2 separate regions of the Homo sapiens genome follow, and region 2 is linked to region 1. Evidence: fine-mapped expression QTL. A gene starts in region 1. The other region holds a variant in brackets. All regions are shown on one strand. Distances are between the middles of the regions.

Region 1 (11,003 bases):
ACCTCAAGGACAAAGTCACAAAGCCTGGCATTGCTCAAGTCCGAAGCTCCTGCAGGCGACTCTTGTAAGGCTTTTGTGTCTATTAAGTCATTTAATTCCCACAACTCCTCTGGGAAGTAGGCGGTGTGATGTTAATACCCAGGTGACAGAATGAACTTGAGGTACAAACAGTTCGCACAGAACCCAGTCATCCAGAGCTCTCAACCTCTAATGCTTTGTGGCTGCTCAGTCAACATAATATTCACCAAGGGGTTAAAAAAAAGTTAGAGCCAAGATGACTTTTAGCAGATGAGTGGTAGGAGAAAAAATGGGACAGATATTGGGGGAATATGTCTGCTTTAATCTTGCTCTGTCGACCAGGCTGGAGTGCCGTGGTGCTATTGGCTCACAGCAACCTCCACCTTCTGAGTTCAAGTGATTCTTGATTCTAGCACCTCAGCCTCCAAGTAGCTGGGATTACAGGCGTGCGCCACCACACCCGGCCAGTTTTGTTTGGTATTTTTAGTAGAGATGGGGTTTCGCCATATTGGCCAGGCTGGTCTCACATTCCTGACCTCAAGTGATCCGCCCACCTCAGCCTCCCAAAATTCTAGTATTACAGGTGTGACCCACCGTGACCAGCCACAAACCATTTCTTTCTCTTCTCCAGGGAATGTGAAAAAACTTGGAGACACATACCCAAGTATCTCAAATGCCCGGAATGCAGAGCTCCGGCTGCGATGGGGCCAAATCGTCCTTAAGAACGACCACCAGGAAGATTTCTGGAAAGTGAAGGAGTTCCTGCATAACCAGGTGGGTGACCCCTGCCTCGCTGTTCCCGAAAGCACACTGGGACCCACTCGGCCATATGTGAAGTAATCATGTGGGCAGGGCTCATCTAGGACTCATCTGAGGCACAGAGGGAGGGGCAAATGACCTGAGGACCCTACCACTCAGCCTCTTTACTAGTGTGGCTTTGAAGGCATTGCCCTAGGGACAAGAGGAGGCCTGCAGGCTTGCAGTGCTTTCTGCAATTCAGCTGGTGAGACCCCAGGGAAAAAAGCTGGCCAGAGCCAACGCAGAGGCGGGAAAGAGGGTGACAGTGTCATGTGGGAAACACAAGAGGGAAAGGGGCCAGAGGCGGAGCAAGAGGAACAAAGGCTTGGAGGATAGGTCCCTGCTGCCCTGTGACTTGGGCATGATCGGGACAGCAGCCAGACCCTCTGTCACTATGTGAAAGTTGCCCTGTTGGGGAAAGGCCCCGGGCTCTCAGGATGAACTGAATGTCATCAGATTCCGGAGCAGGGAGGGGCTGGACCGGAGACGAAGCATTGCTCTGCATAAAGTCAGGGCTGCCTGCCTGTTCGGGGATATTCTGAGCCCTTTGATGGCTTCCTCAAGGCTCTGGATTTTAGGAACTTGTGATGTCGCTGGCTTATATTTGTGTGAATTTGACCTGTGGGTTGACCTGTGGGTTTTCCTTTGCTTGACTGCAGCTGGACCGTATGCGGCTGTGAGCTTTATGTGCCGCAGCTGCTGATATCTGCTATTCACGTGGTGGCTCACCACCTACACCTTTCCAGAAGTCTGGAATCCCATTGTGTCCACCCAACTCATTCATTTTGTTGACTGTAGACGTCCCCATGTTAGTATGGATTGGGACGCGTATTGAGATCCATCTCCATGGATCTCTGGCGCCCAAGAAGATGCCTGAATTAGAGCACTTCTGATGAGAAGCTCCTCATTCCAGCTGTGATGCCCACATCCCTTTTAGCACCTAGCCATGGCTGCTGTTAGACTGGCACTGGGGGCAGCAGGGCTGGACAGATCCACCAGGCAAGCTTCTTAGGCATGTGTATGTGTGTTTCTTGCAGGGGAAGCAGAAGTATACACTTCCGCTGTACCACGCAATGATGGGTGGCAGTGAGGTGGCCCAGACCCTCGCCAAGGAGACTTTTGCATCCACCGCCTCCCAGCTCCACAGCAATGTTGTCAACTATGTCCAGCAGATCGTGGCACCCAAGGGCAGTTAGAGGCTCGTGTGCATGGCCCCTGCCTCTTCAGGCTCTCCAGGCTTTCAGAATAATTGTTTGTTCCCAAATTCCTGTTCCCTGATCAACTTCCTGGAGTTTATATCCCCTCAGGATAATCTATTCTCTAGCTTAGGTATCTGTGACTCTTGGGCCTCTGCTCTGGTGGGAACTTACTTCTCTATAGCCCACTGAGCCCCGAGACAGAGAACCTGCCCACAGCTCTCCCCGCTACAGGCTGCAGGCACTGCAGGGCAGCGGGTATTCTCCTCCCCACCTAAGTCTCTGGGAAGAAGTGGAGAGGACTGATGCTCTTCTTTTTTCTCTTTCTGTCCTTTTTCTTGCTGATTTTATGCAAAGGGCTGGCATTCTGATTGTTCTTTTTTCAGGTTTAATCCTTATTTTAATAAAGTTTTCAAGCAAAAATTAAGTTACGGATTGAGTGACTATTAAATTTCTTCCACCAGAGGTCCTCACTGTGTTTGTTCAGGAAAGGTCACTGGGGGAGGCCCAGAGAATGACAGTATTTTCCTGTCCTCAGGGAACAGCCAGGGTGAAGGAGGTGGGTGTCCTACACATGCATATGAAAAAAAATATGGCAAAATGGCACAGCTGGTGCAGGAAAATGAAAAAGGAATAGCATTCCAGTTCTCCGTGAAGCAGCTGAATTCTCTATCTGCAGCAGCATTCCCATTATCTTTTCCATCACTAAGAAAAAAAAATGGGCTGGGCACGGTGGCTCATGCCTGTAATCCCAGCACTTTGGGAGGCTGAGGCGAGAGGATCGCTTGAGCCCAGGAGTTTGAGACCACCCTGGCCAACATAGCAGGACTTCATCTCTACCAAAAAAAAAAAAAAAAAAAAAAAAAAGCCAGGCGTGGTGGCTCACGCCTGTAATCTCAACACTTTGGGAGGCTGAGGCAGGCAAATCACTTGAGGTCAGAAGTTTGAGACCAGCATGGCCAACATGGTGAAACCCCATCTCTACTGAAAAAAAAGATAGATGCAAAAATTAGCCAGGCATGGTGGCTCACACCTGTAGTTCCAGTTACTTGGGAGGCTGAAGCAGGAGAAACACTTGAACCTGGGAGGTGGAGGTTGCAGTAAACTGAGATCATGCCACTGCACTCCAGCCTGGGTGACAGAGTAAGACTTCTCAAAAAAAAAAAAAAAAAGCTGGGCGTGGTGGTGCATTCCTGTGGTTTCAGCTACTCAGGAGGCTGAGGCAGGAGGATCACTTGAGCCCAAGAGGTCAAGGCCACAGTGAGTCTTGATTGTGCCACTGAACTCCAGCCTGAGTGACAGAGTGAGACCCTGTCTCAAAAATAAAAATAAAGTGTCTTATGACTTTTTATCTACCCTTCTGCCCATGCCCAAGGCTTCACTGGGCCTCACCTGTCTTTGATCCTAGATAACTATTTGAATGGTAATCAGTAAAGTCTTTAGAACTTAGCACTAAATTCTGATTTCCTGGCCTCAACATGGGGACCTAAACAGTTAGCAATCTGGGTTTGGGAGTGGGATGAGGGGAGGGTTGGAAGAAATATTTAGTGTGTTTCATTTGCCTTTCTTAAATACAGGGCACCCCTGAAACAGGCTTTGTTCGCAGCTCTGCTCTGTCCTCGGATTTAGGTTATCGAACAGGCTTCCTCCCTCCCCTGCACAAGGGTTGGGAATGAGTCGATTTGCTTTCACTCAGCAAGAGCAAGGGACTAGTGGTGACCAAGTGGTAGACTGGAGAGGCCTCTGCCCCGTGGCACACAGCTCCACCATCAGAGAGGGTGATGTGGGTCATAGGTGAGGGATCTGGAGGCCCGGTATCGGAAGAGCTTCTCCAGGCACTGGCATTTTGACAGCAAACTGCTTCCGTGGCTCTTTCAGGACTGTTCCTGGCAATATGTTATTGGCAAGGACTATTTTAGGGCTATCCAGTTGTCTCCCCCTCTCCCCAACCTTTTATCTAGCTTATCAGTAGCTATCTTTCCTTGCTCTGTACAAAAACCTATAGCACCAATAGGCCCAGTAATCATGAAGGGTCAGTGCAAGGAAAGGCTGGAAGCCCTTCCTCTAACAGCCGTGCTGTGACTCCACTAACTTTGTGGGGTCTCCCATTACATAGCGTGGGTATCCTGAGCTGTGCAGCCTGCCTCACTCACCACCTTGGTACCTGACAGGACTACTGGATGTGCCTGTCCTTTTGTAGGACATTCTCCCATCCCAAAGATGAGGCTGTGCTGCCGTGTGGGCAAGCTCTGTGGGGAGAGGGGAGGCCAGTGGGTTGTTTTTGCCATCACAGAATACTGGGAAGCCCCTGGCATCCTGCTCCATAGCTCTCTTCACCACTATCCTGGAACCTTCTCCCCACCCCCATCCCCATGCCTCCAAGGCACTGACCTCAAATCCAAGTCTTTCTCACTTATCTCAAGCTGCCAGCCTGTAGGGATTCCTTATCTCAGCTCCATGTCAGCGGTGAGGAAGCCCCAAGAAGGCAAGGGAGCTGACAGCCTTCTCATTTTTCTCGTACATCCTCCTGTTCACCCCGCCATCCCGGGAGCCCCAGCCAGATGCTCTTCAGGGCAGGGAGCACGTGAGCAGCCCTGGGGCTAGAAGCCGGTTCTCCCACATTCCTGGGTGAGGGACTGGGTGGAGGGTGTGCCTGCCTCAGGCTCCTTGGGGGAGGCCCCCTGAAGGGCTGGGGAAAATCCTACTGAGCCCCAGGCTCTCCTGCCTGCACTGGCCCAGTGCGGGGGCGGGGGGGCGGGGGGATCCTGGACATTAACTCTCTCCTAGGCACCTGGGAGCTTCAGAGAGGAAGAAGGTAAGGTAAGAAGCAGATTCTCTGCGCAGGACTTTCTTAGTCCTCAGGCTATAGAGTTAAAGAAAGAAGTATCTGTAGAAGGTGGAGTCACCTTTTGTTTGAGTAACCGTTTCACCCACCCTGGCTGAGGGTGGCCAGGAACTCCCCAAGTTGTGCATTAATGGAGGGGGGTCACACAGATCCTACATTTTTTTGTTTTTGTTTTTTTTTTTTTGAGACGCAGTGATTACAGGTGTGAGCCACCGGATCCTACATTTCAAATGCATAAAAATCTAGATATGGGCTGGGCGCAGTAGCTCATGCCTGTAATCCCAGCACTTTGGGAGGCTGAGGCAGGCAGATCATGAGGTCAGGAGATCGAGTCCATCCTGGCTAACATGGTGAAACCCCGTCTCTACTAAAAATACAGAAAGCCGGGCATGGCAGCGGGCGCCTGTAATCCCAGCTACTCGGAAAGCTGAGGCAGGAGAATCGCTTGAACCCAGGAGTCAGAGGTTGCAGTGAGCAGAGATCACGCCACTGCACTCCAACCTGGGCGACAGAGCGAGACTCCACCTCAAAACAAAATAAACAAAATACTAGATCTGGAAGAGATCTTAGGGATTATTAAATTCAGACAACCTCATTTTTTATAGATGGGGAAACAAGCACAGACTCCAAGGGTCTCATCCAAGATCACACAGTTGCAGATGCTGGCTACAAGTCTCCTGCCTCAACCACCTGTATTACCCCATTCAGGGTCTCAAGAAGGGTCTATAAGACACTATCCATTGTGTTTCGGGCTGAGTCCATAGAGACAACCACAGACATGGGGGACTCTGCCCACAGGGAAGGCAAGGGCTCTGGCCATGGAGCTGGATGGGAAGACTCTGAAGCCCGAAGACATTGAATCCTGTGCAGGGAAAGAGCGAGGGTTTTGTGTACAACACACCTGCATACCTGGATGTGAATCTCAGCTCCACCCCTTCACCAACTCTGTGTGGCCTGGGCAAGCCATTCTAAGGGAACCCTCCACACTGCAACTTTCATGTCTATAAAATGGGAATAACCATGCATTCCTTACAGGACTTTTTTGGTGTGAGGATTAAATGAGAGAATATGTTGAAAAGTGCTTGGTAAATATATTAATACTATGCATTCCCTCTTCTTTGAATGACGTGACCCAGGTAGTCAGGCTTCTGACCACTAGAGGGCAGCAGAAGGTACTGGAAAACTGGGCCGAGTGAACCAGAGATTAGATGGGGTCCAGAGAGCAGGGATGAACTTACCCGTGTGGATTCTGGCAACTCCGGCAGGGAGGGCTCCAGCAGGCGCTGAGGGAAGAACTTTCAAGCAGAGCCGGGTCTCTTCAGGAGCGACTGCAGCAACCCTGATGCTTGGATGGAGTCCAGGCAGGTGATGGTAGTGAAGACCTTGCCAACAGAGTGGGCGCTGGAGAAGGAGCCCTTTAGTGGGGACCCTGGGGCCACGACTAGGCTGGCAGGCCCAGCCAGCACCAATTAATCCATGAGTATTGCCCAGCATTGAGCCTGGAGCACCTTCCAGCCCCTGGCCAGAGTCCTGGGTGTTCTGGGAAAAACCCCTAAACCTAGTAACTCCTCTCCCTACTAGGCCTCTTTGTTGCTGAATCTCTGGAATTTAGGGGCCAGCAGCTTTCTGACTCAGGTCAGCCAGGGGTTCATGTTCCCTCACTTGCCCTCCCCCTGCCTGGCCCATCTCTGGCCTGGCCCCTGGGAGGAATTTCCTGGGCCAGAGGGCAGCCGAAAGCACAGATGCCCACCCCAGCAACGTTCCCGCCACCTGCCCAGGCCAGTGCCCCGTGCCCAACCCCAGAGGGTGCGGGATGACAGACTCTGACAATCATTAAACCAGCCGGGCCTGATTTCCCAGCACTGCCTGCTAAGATCCGGGCCAAGTGGCACTGAATATGCAAATCACCTGGGGCCAGGAGCCCAGTCTAAAGGCCAGGAAATCCCCTCCATCCAATGAGACACCAGCTCAGGTTACTGCAGGGGACACACTATAAAGCCCTGAGCTCAGGGAGGAGCTCCCTCCAGGCTCTATTTAGAGCCGGGTAGGGGAGCGCAGCGGCCAGATACCTCAGCGCTACCTGGCGGAACTGGATTTCTCTCCCGCCTGCCGGCCTGCCTGCCACAGCCGGACTCCGCCACTCCGGTAGGATTCCCCGCCTGTCATTCCCTAGCCCAGCTCTTGGGAAACTGCAGAGGGGTCCAGAGGATTTGCAGTTCTGAACCTGCACACTCCAGTCTAGGATCTCCGAGCAAGAGCGTAGGTGTCCTGAGGGTCAAAGAACAGAGAGAGATTGTCTCTGGGAAGGCAGAATGGCCATGACGCCGCTAGTCTGGCTCCAGGGCCCCAGAGATCTGAGGAGGGAAGCCCAGCTGGAGGCTCCTGTGGTCCTGCCCTGGTCTGAGATCTTGGAGCCCTTCTTGAAGAGACGGTGTCCGCAGAGTTGCTGATCTTCCTGCCCCTGGGGGCTACTCTTGCCCAGGGTTGGGCAAAGCAGAGTAGCTGGGAGTGTAAGGAGAGGACCCTCGTCCCCTCACCAACCTCATCCTCTCTCCCCCTACCCACAGGTAGCCTCATGGCTGCAACCTGTGAGATTAGCAACATTTTTAGCAACTACTTCAGTGCGATGTACAGCTCGGAGGACTCCACCCTGGCCTCTGTTCCCCCTGCTGCCACCTTTGGGGCCGATGACTTGGTACTGACCCTGAGCAACCCCCAGATGTCATTGGAGGGTACAGGTGGGTCTCAGCGGGGTGGGATGGGGCACGGAGTGGGAGACAGATCCATCTAAGGGCCTGTTAGACAAATGGGGGAATAGGCAGGGAGGAGGGTCTCTAGGCAAATTCCAGGGCTAGAGGCTGAGACTTAGTGACTGAGGTGCTGGGGGTTGTGGGGCTGTGACAGGCAGAGGGAGGTGTCAGATACCAGGACAAGGGTGTTGTGAATGCTACCTCCTGCCCCTACTCTTGGGATGGCTCCAAGGGCTGAGGTGTGAATCCCCAGTGTGCTCCAGGAATGGGGCTGTGTGGGCTGGGAGTGGTGGCTCACGCCTGTAATCCCAGCACTTTGGGAGGCTGAGCTGAGCGGATCACCTGAGGTCAAGAGTTCGAGACCAGCCTAGCCAACATGGTGAAACCCCGTCTCTACTAAAAATACAAAAAAAAATTTATCCCAGCGTGGTGGTGGGCACCTATAATCCCAGCTACTGGGGAGGCTGACGCAGGAGTATCGCTTGAACCTGGGAGGTGGAGGTTGCTGTGAGCCGAGATTGTGCCATTGCACCCCAGCCTAGGTGACAGGAGTGAGACTCCATCTCAAAAAAAAAAAAAAAAATGGGGCTGTAAGGTCTGCTGGGTGGCCTGAGCTGAGCCTGTTTCCCTGCCTGGCCCTTGCAGAGAAGGCCAGCTGGTTGGGGGAACAGCCCCAGTTCTGGTCGAAGACGCAGGTTCTGGACTGGATCAGCTACCAAGTGGAGAAGAACAAGTACGACGCAAGCGCCATTGACTTCTCACGATGTGACATGGATGGCGCCACCCTCTGCAATTGTGCCCTTGAGGAGCTGCGTCTGGTCTTTGGGCCTCTGGGGGACCAACTCCATGCCCAGCTGCGAGACCTCAGTGAGTCCAGGCCCCTGGAGGCTGGGGAGCAGCTCCACATGTTGAGCTGAGTCGAGTTCAGTGTGGCCGTAGGCAGGCCCTGGAGCTCTGGGCCAGCTGCACAGCCAGAGAGAGCCCTTGAGGGAGGGATTAGGGGAGTGTGACCCTTCCTTCCTTCCTTGTCAGCTTCCAGCTCTTCTGATGAGCTCAGTTGGATCATTGAGCTGCTGGAGAAGGATGGCATGGCCTTCCAGGAGGCCCTAGACCCAGGGCCCTTTGGTGAGAACCCGTTTTCTCCTTCCTTCCCCAGCCTGTCTTGTCCCATCCCTGCCCCTCCACAGAGTGCTAGAGATGACCCCCTCCCCAGACTTCTTCCTCCCTCAATTAGAAAAATTGCAGCAGGTCATCAGACCCATGGGCAGCATCACCTGTCCTGGTCTGGTCCCCTGAGCCCTCTCTGAGTTCTCACCTCCTCTTCCCAGACCAGGGCAGCCCCTTTGCCCAGGAGCTGCTGGACGACGGTCAGCAAGCCAGCCCCTACCACCCCGGCAGCTGTGGCGCAGGAGCCCCCTCCCCTGGCAGCTCTGACGTCTCCACCGCAGGTGAGAGCTCTCTCTGGGCCACAACCTCCCTTCCCCGAAGTGTCCCTTGTTCCCTCTGGCTCCCAGCACCATAACTCAGGCCTTCTGGCAGGAACAGGAACAGGCTGGGAAGTGTGTCCTGAGAGCCAGCAGCGTGGTTGAGCAGAGGGTGGGCCGGCAGGGGACTTACTCTGACCCCGCCCCCCAGGGACTGGTGCTTCTCGGAGCTCCCACTCCTCAGACTCCGGTGGAAGTGACGTGGACCTGGATCCCACTGATGGCAAGCTCTTCCCCAGCGGTGAGTCGAGGGAGGTCCCCAAGAGGGCGTCCCATTTAGCAATGCACAGGGGGCCCGGCTCTTCCTGCAGCCTTTTCCTGTAGAGGGGCTACTCTCCCTAACTCCCCTCTTGCCCCTCCTTGACCTTCCACCACCGTCCCCACAGATGGTTTTCGTGACTGCAAGAAGGGGGATCCCAAGCACGGGAAGCGGAAACGAGGCCGGCCCCGAAAGCTGAGCAAAGAGTACTGGGACTGTCTCGAGGGCAAGAAGAGCAAGCACGGTGAGCTCCGGGGGCACGTGGGTCCTCCCTGCGCCGGGCTGAGCGGCTTCCTGGGGCACTGCGGGTTGTTGCAGGTATCCCTTCTCCCGTTTTCTCTGGCCTCCGCATGGCCTTTGGTAAGGCTGTGCACAAGCTGGGGGCTCTATGGTATCGGTCACCACCTAATTGCAGAGCCTGGCTTGGTGGTCCTGGAGAGGAGGAGGAAATAAGGCTCCCAGTGGGAGGCTCATGGTACCAGAGTCCTGTCCACTGACTCCAGTGTCCTGTCCACTGACTCCAGTTCTCTCTGCACTTGGCCACTGTCCTGCCCTCTGGGACACCCTCAATGTGAGGAGGCAGCTGGTGGGTCTTAGGTGGGCTGAGGAGAAAAGCAGTCACTGCAGTACCCGCACAGAGGGCACTGCGGGGTCTCTGGAGAGGCTTGCTGCATGCTGTGGCCAAGTCAGCAGTGCACTGGGGCGGGCAGGGCTGGCTGGCCTTGGGTGAGAGGGGACACCTGGATGGCAAACTGATGGAGGCTGGCCTTGCAGCGCCCAGAGGCACCCACCTGTGGGAGTTCATCCGGGACATCCTCATCCACCCGGAGCTCAACGAGGGCCTCATGAAGTGGGAGAATCGGCATGAAGGCGTCTTCAAGTTCCTGCGCTCCGAGGCTGTGGCCCAACTATGGGGCCAAAAGAAAAAGAACAGCAACATGACCTACGAGAAGCTGAGCCGGGCCATGAGGTGAGCTGGCGGCCAGGACCCTCACGATACAGCCGGACATGGGGACAGGCGCTCACACTCCCACCGCCCTCTTTCTGGCTGCCACTTGGCTTCTTGCAACAGGGCTGAGTCCTTAGAGTGAGGACAACATCTGGGTTGGTCTACTTCATGGATTAAATGACAACATGGAGAAAGTATTAGCCTGGCAGACAGCAGACACAGTGCACTTGAGCTAGCAGCAACATTTCTTGTATCGCCTGTGAGGCTTGTCCTCAGGAAGGCACCTGGAGAGTGGGAAAGGGGGCAGGAGCCGTGCCCACCCAGGGCCTGGCTTTCTCCTCGTTGAAGCACTTAGGTTGTTTTTCTCTGGGCCTCAGTTTCCTCCTGTGTCCAGGAGTACACTAGATCATCTTAAGATCCCGTCCAGCCCTAAAATCATGTACTTACTTTTTTTTTCTTTTTCTTTTTTAAATAGAGGCAAGGGTCTCTACGTTGGCCAGGCCGGTCTCAAACTCCTGGCCTCAAATGACTCTCCTGCCTCGGCCTCTCAAAGTGCTGGGATTACAGGTGTGAGCCAGTATGCTTGGCCTTTTCTTTTTTCTTCTTCTTCTTTTTATTTTTCGAGACAGGGTCTCGCTCTGTCACCCAGGCTAGAGTGCAGTGGCACAATCTTGGCTCGCTACAACCTCTGCCTGCCGGGTTCA
Region 2 (8,778 bases), 22 kb before region 1:
AGCCCTGCCGCGCCGCCGAGCGCCTCCAGGTGCTGCTCACCTACCGCGTCGGGGAGGGACCCGGGGTGAGTGCGCCCCAGACTGCGCCCGCCGCTGCCTGCCTGCCCTTCCGGCCCCCAGCCGCCCTGCACCCTCACCTACCCCACCCGGGAGGAGGGACAGGGAGGACCCTTCCAGAGCGTCCCTAGAGGGGCCTACTCCCCGCGCGCCGCCTCTAGGCCTCCTCCCCTTGCTTCCTCTTTTCCTCCCGGGCTGCCTGGTTTCCTTCTGGACTTCCTCCAGCCACTGGGCGGTGCATCCTTCACCCTTTCCGTCCTTCCGCGTCTCCTCCCTGGCCCTGGAGGCTTGTCCAGATTGCGCCGCATTCCCGCTCATCGCACACTGCCGTTTCTAACATTTTCCGTGGCTTTCTAGATGACCTGTTGTTCATGCACTTCACTTAGTGCCCTCTTGGACTTTTGGGCCGAGGTACCTGATTATCAGCCACCTTATCTCTGCTTTATGGTGGCTCTAGAATTAGCCAGATGTTGATCTAGCTCTTTGTTCTGTGTTGCCTTCTAGTTCCACGGTTAAAGCTCTTATCTTTGTTTTTGTTTCCTCCTGTGAAGTCCTGGATTTGATTAACGAAAGAATTTGAGTAAAAGTGAGAACTGGAATTAGGGTGCTATAAGCATTATAATAATTTGGCCTTCTCACTGTTGGTTAACTCTTTAATTTTTTTTCGGGACGGGGCAAATATTGGAAATAAGAGGATGGAGTTATGTGGCTTATGTCTGTAAGAGTCAGAAAATCCTTCCTGGAGAGTCCTTAGGCTGTGGCTGCCAGTTATCTCTCAGGTAGAGTTGGTTGCAAGTTTCATAGTAAACTGCTTGCTTACAGTTTAATCTTTTATTTATTTATTTGAGGCAGAGTCTCACTCTCGTCCAGGCTGGAGTGCAGTGGCAAGATCTCGGCTCACTGCAACCTCTGCGTCGTGGGTTCGAGCGATTCTCGTACCTCACCCTCCCTAGTAGCTGGGACTACAGGCGTGCGCCACCACACCCGGCTAATTTTTGTATTGTTTAGTAGAGACAAAATTTCACCATTTTGGTCAGGCTGGTCTCGAACTCCTGACCTCGTGATCCGCCTGCCTCGGCGGCCTCCCAAAGTGCTGGGATTACAGGCGTGAGCCACTGCGCCCGGCCCACAGCTTGGTTTTATACATTAGGGAGACATGATACATCAGTCAGTATATGTAAGAAGTACATTGGTTGGGTCTGAAAAGGTGGGACAACTTGCAGCAAAGGCAGGAAGACTTGAAGCGGCTTCCGGATCACAGATAGGTGATACACAAATGGTTACATTCTTTTGAGTTTCTGATGAGCCTTTCCAAAGGAAGCAAATCAGATATGCATCCATCTCAGTGAGCAGAGTAGTGGCTTTGAATAGAATGGGAGGCAGGTGTGCCCTAAGCGGTTCCCAGGTTGAGTTTTCTTTAGTGATTTTGGGGGCCCAAGAGATTTTCCTTTCACAGCCTGATAACACCACTGCACTCCAGCCTGAGCAACAGAGTGCGACCCTGTTTTAACAACAACAACAAAAAAGCAAAGATGATGAGTAAGCAATTTTGGTGGAGGGGGGATGATGGCTAATATTTAATAAGATGAGCCAGGCACTAGTCTAAGTGCTTGACATAGGTTAAATGAGTTGTCTTTCCATAAGTGGTTAATATGGTGCGTGGTACATGGTAAGTAAGCTGTGTTAGCTCTTACTGCTAACTTTTGTATTTCTTTCTTTTTTTTTTTTTTTTTTTTTTTTTTTTTTTTTTTTGAGAAGGGATCAAAAAGCTCCCTACATTGTTCTTTTTAAAAATCTCGTTTCCAGGCTGGGTGTGGTGGCTCACATCTGTAATCCCAGCACTTTGGGAGGCCAGGGCTGGCAGATCACCTGAGGTCAGGAGTTTGAGACCAGCCTGGCCAACATGGTGAAACCCTACCTCCACTAAAAATACAAAAATTAGCTGGTTGTGGTGGCTCACACCTGTAAACCCAGCTACCTGGGAGCCTGAGGCAGGAGGATCGCTTGAATCTGGGACACAGAGGTTGCAGTGAGCTGAGATCATGCCATTGCATTCCAGCCTGGGTGACACAGCGAGGCTCCATCTAAAAAAAAAAAAAAAAAATACTCATTTCCTAGCTGATCAGTAAAAACATCACTGACTGATGGCATTCAATGATCAGTCAATTGATCAATTCTTATTGACTGGTATAGTGGCACCATCTCAGCTCACTGCAGCCTTGACCTCCCTGGCTCAAGTGATCCTCCCACCTTAGCCTCCTGAGTAGCTGGGGTAGCTGGGACCAACCACAGACCTGCCACCTCCACACTTGGCTAATTTTTGTTATTTTTTGTAGAGATGGGGTTTTGCCATGTTGCCCACGCTGGTCTTGAACTCCTGGGTTCAAGCCATCTGCCCGCTTTGGCATCCCAAAGTGCTGGGACTACAAGCATGAGCCAACATGCCTGGCTTAATTGAGCAGCCAGTTCAGAGAGTTCCCATATACAGTTCAGTACCTCCTACATACACATATACACACAGATTCCCCTCTTGCTACCATTTTGCATTAGTATGACACATTTGTTACAATTAAACAATGCTGATATATTATTAACCAAGATTGAATCATTTTACATTAGTATAATAATATATTTGTTATAATTAATAAACCAGTACCGATACTGGAGTCCATAGTTTTTTCAGATTCCCTTAGTTTTTACTTAATGTCTTTTTCTGTTCCAGGAAGCCATCCAGAATTCCACATTATATTTAGCTGTCATGTATCCTCTTGGGACTGTGACAGTTTCTCAAACTTTCCTTGTTTTTGATATAACTTTGACAGTTTGTTTGTTTTTTGAGACAGGGTCTTGCTCTGTCATCCAGGCCGTAGTGCAGTGAGTGGCACAATCATGGCTCACTGCAGCCTTGATCCCCCTGGTTCAAGTGATCCTCCTGCCTCAGCCCAAGTAGCTGGGACTACAGGCGCATACAACTGCGCCCAGCTAATTTTTTGAATTTATTATTTGTAGAGATGAGGTCTCACTGTGTTATCCAGGCTTGTCTCAAACGCTTGGGCTCAAACAAACAATTCTCCCATCTTGGCCTCCCAAAGAAAGTGCTAGAATTACAGGCATGAGCCACTGCTCCCAGCCAGTTTTTTGTTTTTTATTTTTTTATTTTTATTTTTTCTGTAGAGACAGGGTCCCCCTATGTTGCCCAGGCTGGTCTCAAACTCCTGGCCTCAAGCGATCCTCCTGCCTTGACCTCCCGAAGTGCTGGCATTACAGGTGTGAGCCACTGAGCCCAGCCAACCTTGACAGTTTTGAGGAGTGTTGGCCAGGTATAGCGTAGGATGACCCTGTATTGGAATTTATCTGATGTTTTCTCATGATTAGATTGG[G/A]ATTATGGGTTTTGAGGGGCAATTCACAGAGGTAAAGTGCCATTTTCTTTCTTTTTTTTTTTTTTTTTTCTTGAAATGGAGTTTCACTCTTGTTACCCAGGCTGGACTGCAGTGGTGTGATCTCGGCTCACTGCAACCTCCGCCTCCCTGGTTCAAGCGATTCTCCTCCCTCAGCCTCCGAAGTAGCTGGGACTATAGGCATATGCCACCACCCTGGTTAATTTTTGTATTTTTAGTAGACACAGGGTTTCACTGTGTTGGCCAGGCTGGTCTTGAACTCCCGACCTCAGGTGATCCACCAGCCTCGGCCTCCCAAAGTGCTGGGATTACAGGTGTGAGCCACTGCGCCCAGCCAAAGTGCCATTTTCATCAGGTATTGAGGGCGCATAGTATCCACATGATTTATGACTGTCAGCGTTAACCTCGGTCCCCTGGCTGAAGCAGTGATTATCAGCTTTCTCCACTGTGAAGTTATTCTCTCATCCCTTTCTATACTGCACTGTACCTGTTATAAGGAGACTAATTAAATTTTTCACACACAAAAACTCAAACCCAGCATCCCAACGTAGCTTCCTTATGCCTCTTAAAATAGGTCTCAGACACTGCTGTGTTCAGAACCCTTCATTAGACTTGCCCAGGCCTGCCTCCCCAACTCTGCATCTGGAGCCTGCATCTGTTTATGCCTCTCCTCATGTTGCTGCTCGTCTCCTTGTGAATGTCTCCTCCCTTCCTTTCCAGCCATCTCAATCCTGCGTGTCTTTGAAGGTCCAGCCAGAAAGTTTTCTTCCCCTATGAAATCATCCTGGAGTAATCGAATCCATTTCTAAATTCTAAATGCTATTTGTTACTGACCTATGCTCCATCCTGCCCCTCTTCCAGGTAAATGAATGGCTGTTTGCTATAGGCAAAAACTGGGTTTTGTGATAAATCATTCAGATTTTACTTTTTTTTTTTTTTTTTTTTTTTTTTTGAGGCAGAGTCTCGCTCTGTCACCCAGGCTGGAGTGCAGTGGCATGATCTCAGCTCACTGCAACATCTGCCTCCTGGGTTCAAGCAATTCTCCTGCCTCAGCCTCCTGAGTAGCTAGAATTACAGGTGCATGCCATCACACCCGGCTAATTTTTGTATTTTTAGTAGCAACAGGGTTTTACCATGTTATCCAGGCAGGTCACGAACGCCTGACCTCAAGTGATCCACCTGCGTCGGACTCCCAAAGTGCTGGGATTACAGGCGTGAGCCACTGCACCCAACCCAGATTTGCCCTTTGTTTAAGAGCTAACAGAACACAGATAAAGAATCATATAACCAGTGCCTATTATATAAAATACCTTTCTTCTGAAAAGGTAAATTTTAGGAACAGAAAACACATATTAGGCCAGGTGCAGTGGCTCATGCCTGTAATCCCAGCACTTTGGGAAGCTGAGGCGGGCAGATCACCTGAGGTCAGGAGTTCAAGACCAGCCTGACCAACATGATGAAACCCCGTCTCTACTAAAAATACAAAATTAGTCGGATGTGGTGGTGCATGCCTATAATCCCAGCTACTTGGGAGGCTGAGGCAGGAGACTCGCTTGAACCCAGGAGGCGGAGACTGCAGTGAGCTGAGATCACACCATTGCACTCCAGCCTGGGCGACAAGAGTGAAACTCTATCTCGAAAAAAAAAAAAGAAAAGAAAAGAGAATGTATATTAGGCTGAGCATGATGGCTTATGCCTGTATTCCCAGCACTTTGGGAGACTGAGGTGGGCGGGTTGCTTGAGGCCAGGAGTTGGAGACCAGCCTGGCCAACATGGTGAAACCCTATCTTTACAATACAAAAATTAGCTGGACTTGGTGGTGCACGCGCCTGTGGTCCCAGCTACTTGGGAGGCTGAGGCATGAGAATTGCTTGAACCTGGGAGGTCGAGGTTGCAGTGAGCCGAGATTGCACCACTGTACTCCAGCCTGGGCGACAGAGCGATACTCTGTCTCAAAAAAAAAAAAAAAAAAAAAAAAAACATATTAATCACTGACTCCCAGTTGAGTTCTGCTTTTCTGTGTCTTATCACAAGTCCAAATGCAGTTGCTTCAGTAGTTTTTTGTTTGATGAGAAACTACTACAGTGAAAAGGACACAGATAGGGTACAGATGACAAGATCAGAGGCTCGGTCCAAGGTCTCTGAGATGACCCATGGGATGCAGTGAGGAATGGACCCTTTCTGGTGGCTCTGCCCTGTGAAGTGGATGTCATACTTTGGCATGGATTCCAGGATGAACTAAATACACAGAGGAGAGAGCTTTCTAGTTCAAACCAGACTGGCTGGCGGAAAGGTTTTAAGGATTACCTAAAATTCTCTCATTCCAGCCAGCTCACTTCTCTGGCCAGACTGAGCTCGTGTGGGAGATGTCAGTTCTGAAATGTTCTTCTTTTCGCTTAGGTTTGCTGGTTGGCTCCCGAGCAGACAGCAGGAAAGAAGAAGCCCTTCGTGTACACCCAGGGCCAGGCTGTCCTAAACCGGGCCTTCTTCCCTTGCTTCGACACGCCTGCTGTTAAATACAAGTATTCAGCTCTTATTGAGGTAAGGAGACTAAGGTTAGGTGCACCTGCCCTTGGGATGAAGAAATGATTTCAGATCTATCAATCAGGTCACGTTTCAGTGGTAAATTATTATATCCATTCAGTGGTACTTCTGAAAAATTGCTTACTTTTAAATTCTTCCACCTACTGAAGTTGTATGTAGCCTTCCTCTAAATCCCATCAGTTGAGCACAGATTTAGTTTCTTGAAACCTTTGTGTTCTCCAAGATAGACTCCAGGCCATTATCATCACACACAGGTGGCCGGTCATGCTCTTATTCAAACTAATCAAAAGGAAACTCTCTCCAGGTAAAATCTCCTAAGCTTTCTCTGTTGTCAGGTCCCAGATGGCTTCACAGCTGTGATGAGTGCTAGCACCTGGGAGAAGAGAGGTCCAAATAAGTTCTTCTTCCAGATGTGTCAGCCCATCCCCTCCTATCTGATAGCTTTGGCCATCGGAGATCTGGTTTCGGCTGAAGTTGGACCCAGGTAGGAGACAAAGACCCCACAGGCAAGGTTGGATTGGCCTCAGAGGTGAGGAGGACTCTGACCAGTGGACCTGCTGGGGGGGTTCTTGGGCAGTCTTGGATCCTCTGTCTGAGTCCAGAGCCTTTCTGCAGCTCATGCAGCATGAGCACAGCTGGAGGAAGTGCTCTTTTTCTCCCTGCCTTTCTCACTCCCTCTCTCCAGTTCTAATCCTGCTGCCTGGAATGAGATCATCATCCCTGCTAGCAGTAGCGCTGTCCTGGGCTGCCTTACAGAGGGATGTTGGAATTTAGGCTGCAGTTTTGGGAAATGGATTTTTTTTTTTTTTTGAGATGGAGTCTTGCTGTGTTGCCCAGGCTGGACTGGAGTGCAATGGTGCGATCTTGGCTCACTGCAACCTCTGCCTCCTGGGTTCAAGCGATTCTCCTGCCCCAGCCTCCCAAGTAACTGGGACTGCAGGCATGCCCCACCACGCTCGGCTAATTTTTGTATTTTTCGTAGAGACGGGGTTTCACCATGTTGGCCAGGCTGCTCTTGAACTCCTGACCTCAGGTGATTCACCCGCCTTGGCCTCCCAAAGTGCTGGGATTACAGGCATGAGCCATCATGCCCGGCCTGGGAAATGGATCTTTATTAATATCTTTAAGTTCTAAATGCCCTTCTAGCAGCTATATCCACTTTCCTATCTTTGTACCAAATCTTCCCCATTTTCTTTTGCACGTAGTTCCTGGAAATAACAACTTTGGTATCATTTCCCTCGAAGAGGGAAGTGGACTCTCCTTCCTATCTGCAGCAGATGCATGAGTCTAAGCCTACGGTGAGAGCAATGCCTCCGTGAAGTTACATGGATCTTGTGAAGATAAAAAGGGATTTTGTAAGGTTTCCTGATAAAAGAGGTTTGACCAGGAGTATAGGTTTTTCCTGGCTCTCATATTACCTCCACCATAGCTTAGTCCCAATGTGGGAGCATCACAGGCTGGACGGTGAAGCCGTGACCTTTTCCTGGCACTGTTGCTGTTCTTTATCTCTGGCCCTGCTCCCAGTTCCTAGAGGCAGTGGTGTCCTTGACAACATTAGTTACGAGCCTCAGACTTCATAACTGGGCTCAGTGGCACTGCTGGTATCATGAGTCTTAGTTTCTGGTTATCAGTTGGAATAATAAATGGGATTCCATTGGCATCTGCTCCCAGCGCACACATTCAAAACAATACCAGTCTGGAAAGACAAAGTGCCCTCCTCTTACGAAGGGCTGTCTTCCTAATAGGCAGGGCGGGAAATAACCAAAAGGATGTCATCTTTGCAATAGACAAGCAAGTAGATAAGTAAAGGAACGTCGTTTCCAAGAATACCCTTACTAAGGTTCTACTTGTAAGAGTATGAACTATTAATGGGAAATGAGAGAACAATAGATTCTAAAGATACTGAGTGATAATGATTTCTTTTTATACTGCCTGTAATAAAATGACAACATGGTATATCGAACTAGGTGACAGAATCCACTTAACTGGTGGTAATGCCTTATTCCTTCCGTGATTAAATGGACAGTTCTTGCCTCCTGGGTCACATCGTAGGGTCTTGTGGGGGGTTATTTATTTATTATTTTTGAGATGGCGTCTTGCTCTGTTGCCCAGGCTGGAGTGCAGTGGCGCGATCTTGGCTCACCACAACCTCCGCCTCCTGGGTTCAAGTGATTCTCCTGCCTCAGCCTCCCAAGTAGCTGGGACTACAGGTGTGTGCCACCATTTCTGGCTAATTTTCATATTTTTAATAGAGACAGGGTTTCACTATGTTGGCCAGGCTAGTCTTGAACTCCTGACCTCGTGATCCATCCACCTCGGCCTCCCAAAGTGCTCGATTACAGGCATGAGCCACCACGCCGGGCCGTGGGGGTTTATTAAATCGGAGGGTCTTCTGGCAAGGTATGCCACCTATCCCAGTCCCTGTTACTGCAAGAGGAAAATCCTGGGCAGAGGGGAATTATGGGTATATCCCAGTAGGCCCTTTTATGTATAATCTCTTCTAATCCTTACACAGACTCCATGAGGATGATACTTTCTACATTTTAAAAATAAGCAAACCAAGGCTGTGGTGAGTGGCTTGTGCAGGACCACTAGTTGGCAAAACTGGAATTAAAATTCAGGTATTTCCATTGCAAATCCAGTGCTCTTTGCAATATACTACAGGTAGTGAGATTGCAGCTTGACTGAGAGCATCCTGATTTATTTTGACAGAAATGTGTGTCCTGGTGGAGGTATCTTGGATGACTGTCTTAAACCTTCTAGTTGTAACAAGCTGAAG

Evidence for each region. PIP is the estimated chance that this variant, and not a neighbour inherited with it, causes the effect.
Region 2: its variant is fine-mapped to the expression of ELF3-AS1 in monocytes after Pam3CSK4 (Quach 2016, PIP 0.95).

Annotation. Positions count from the first base shown.
Region 1 is chr1:202,003,705-202,014,707 of GRCh38, forward strand. It overlaps ELF3-AS1 (ELF3 antisense RNA 1), which reads right to left and starts at 6,649. Exons shown (of 2, transcript NR_146472.1): 1 at 6,096-6,649. RNPEP (arginyl aminopeptidase) reads left to right here. Exons shown (of 11, transcript NM_020216.4): 10 at 650-792; 11 at 1,854-2,439. The coding sequence ends at 2,012. It overlaps ELF3 (E74 like ETS transcription factor 3), which reads left to right and starts at 6,883. Exons shown (of 9, transcript NM_004433.5): 1 at 6,883-7,002; 2 at 7,425-7,595; 3 at 8,253-8,474; 4 at 8,640-8,732; 5 at 8,936-9,055; 6 at 9,243-9,332; 7 at 9,478-9,594; 8 at 10,125-10,320. The coding sequence starts at 7,433. RefSeq lists enhancers at 628-1,270, 4,481-5,122, 6,849-7,782, 7,783-8,717, 9,527-10,726.
Region 2 is chr1:201,983,049-201,991,826 of GRCh38, forward strand. It overlaps RNPEP (arginyl aminopeptidase), which reads left to right. Exons shown (of 11, transcript NM_020216.4): 1 at 1-65; 2 at 5,856-5,996; 3 at 6,335-6,483. Among named protein-coding and RNA genes, the nearest start is that of RNPEP, 4.8 kb to the left of the region's middle. RefSeq lists silencers at 1-185, 2,902-3,076 and an enhancer at 6,651-8,778. The variant G/A (reference allele first, on the strand shown) is at 3,438.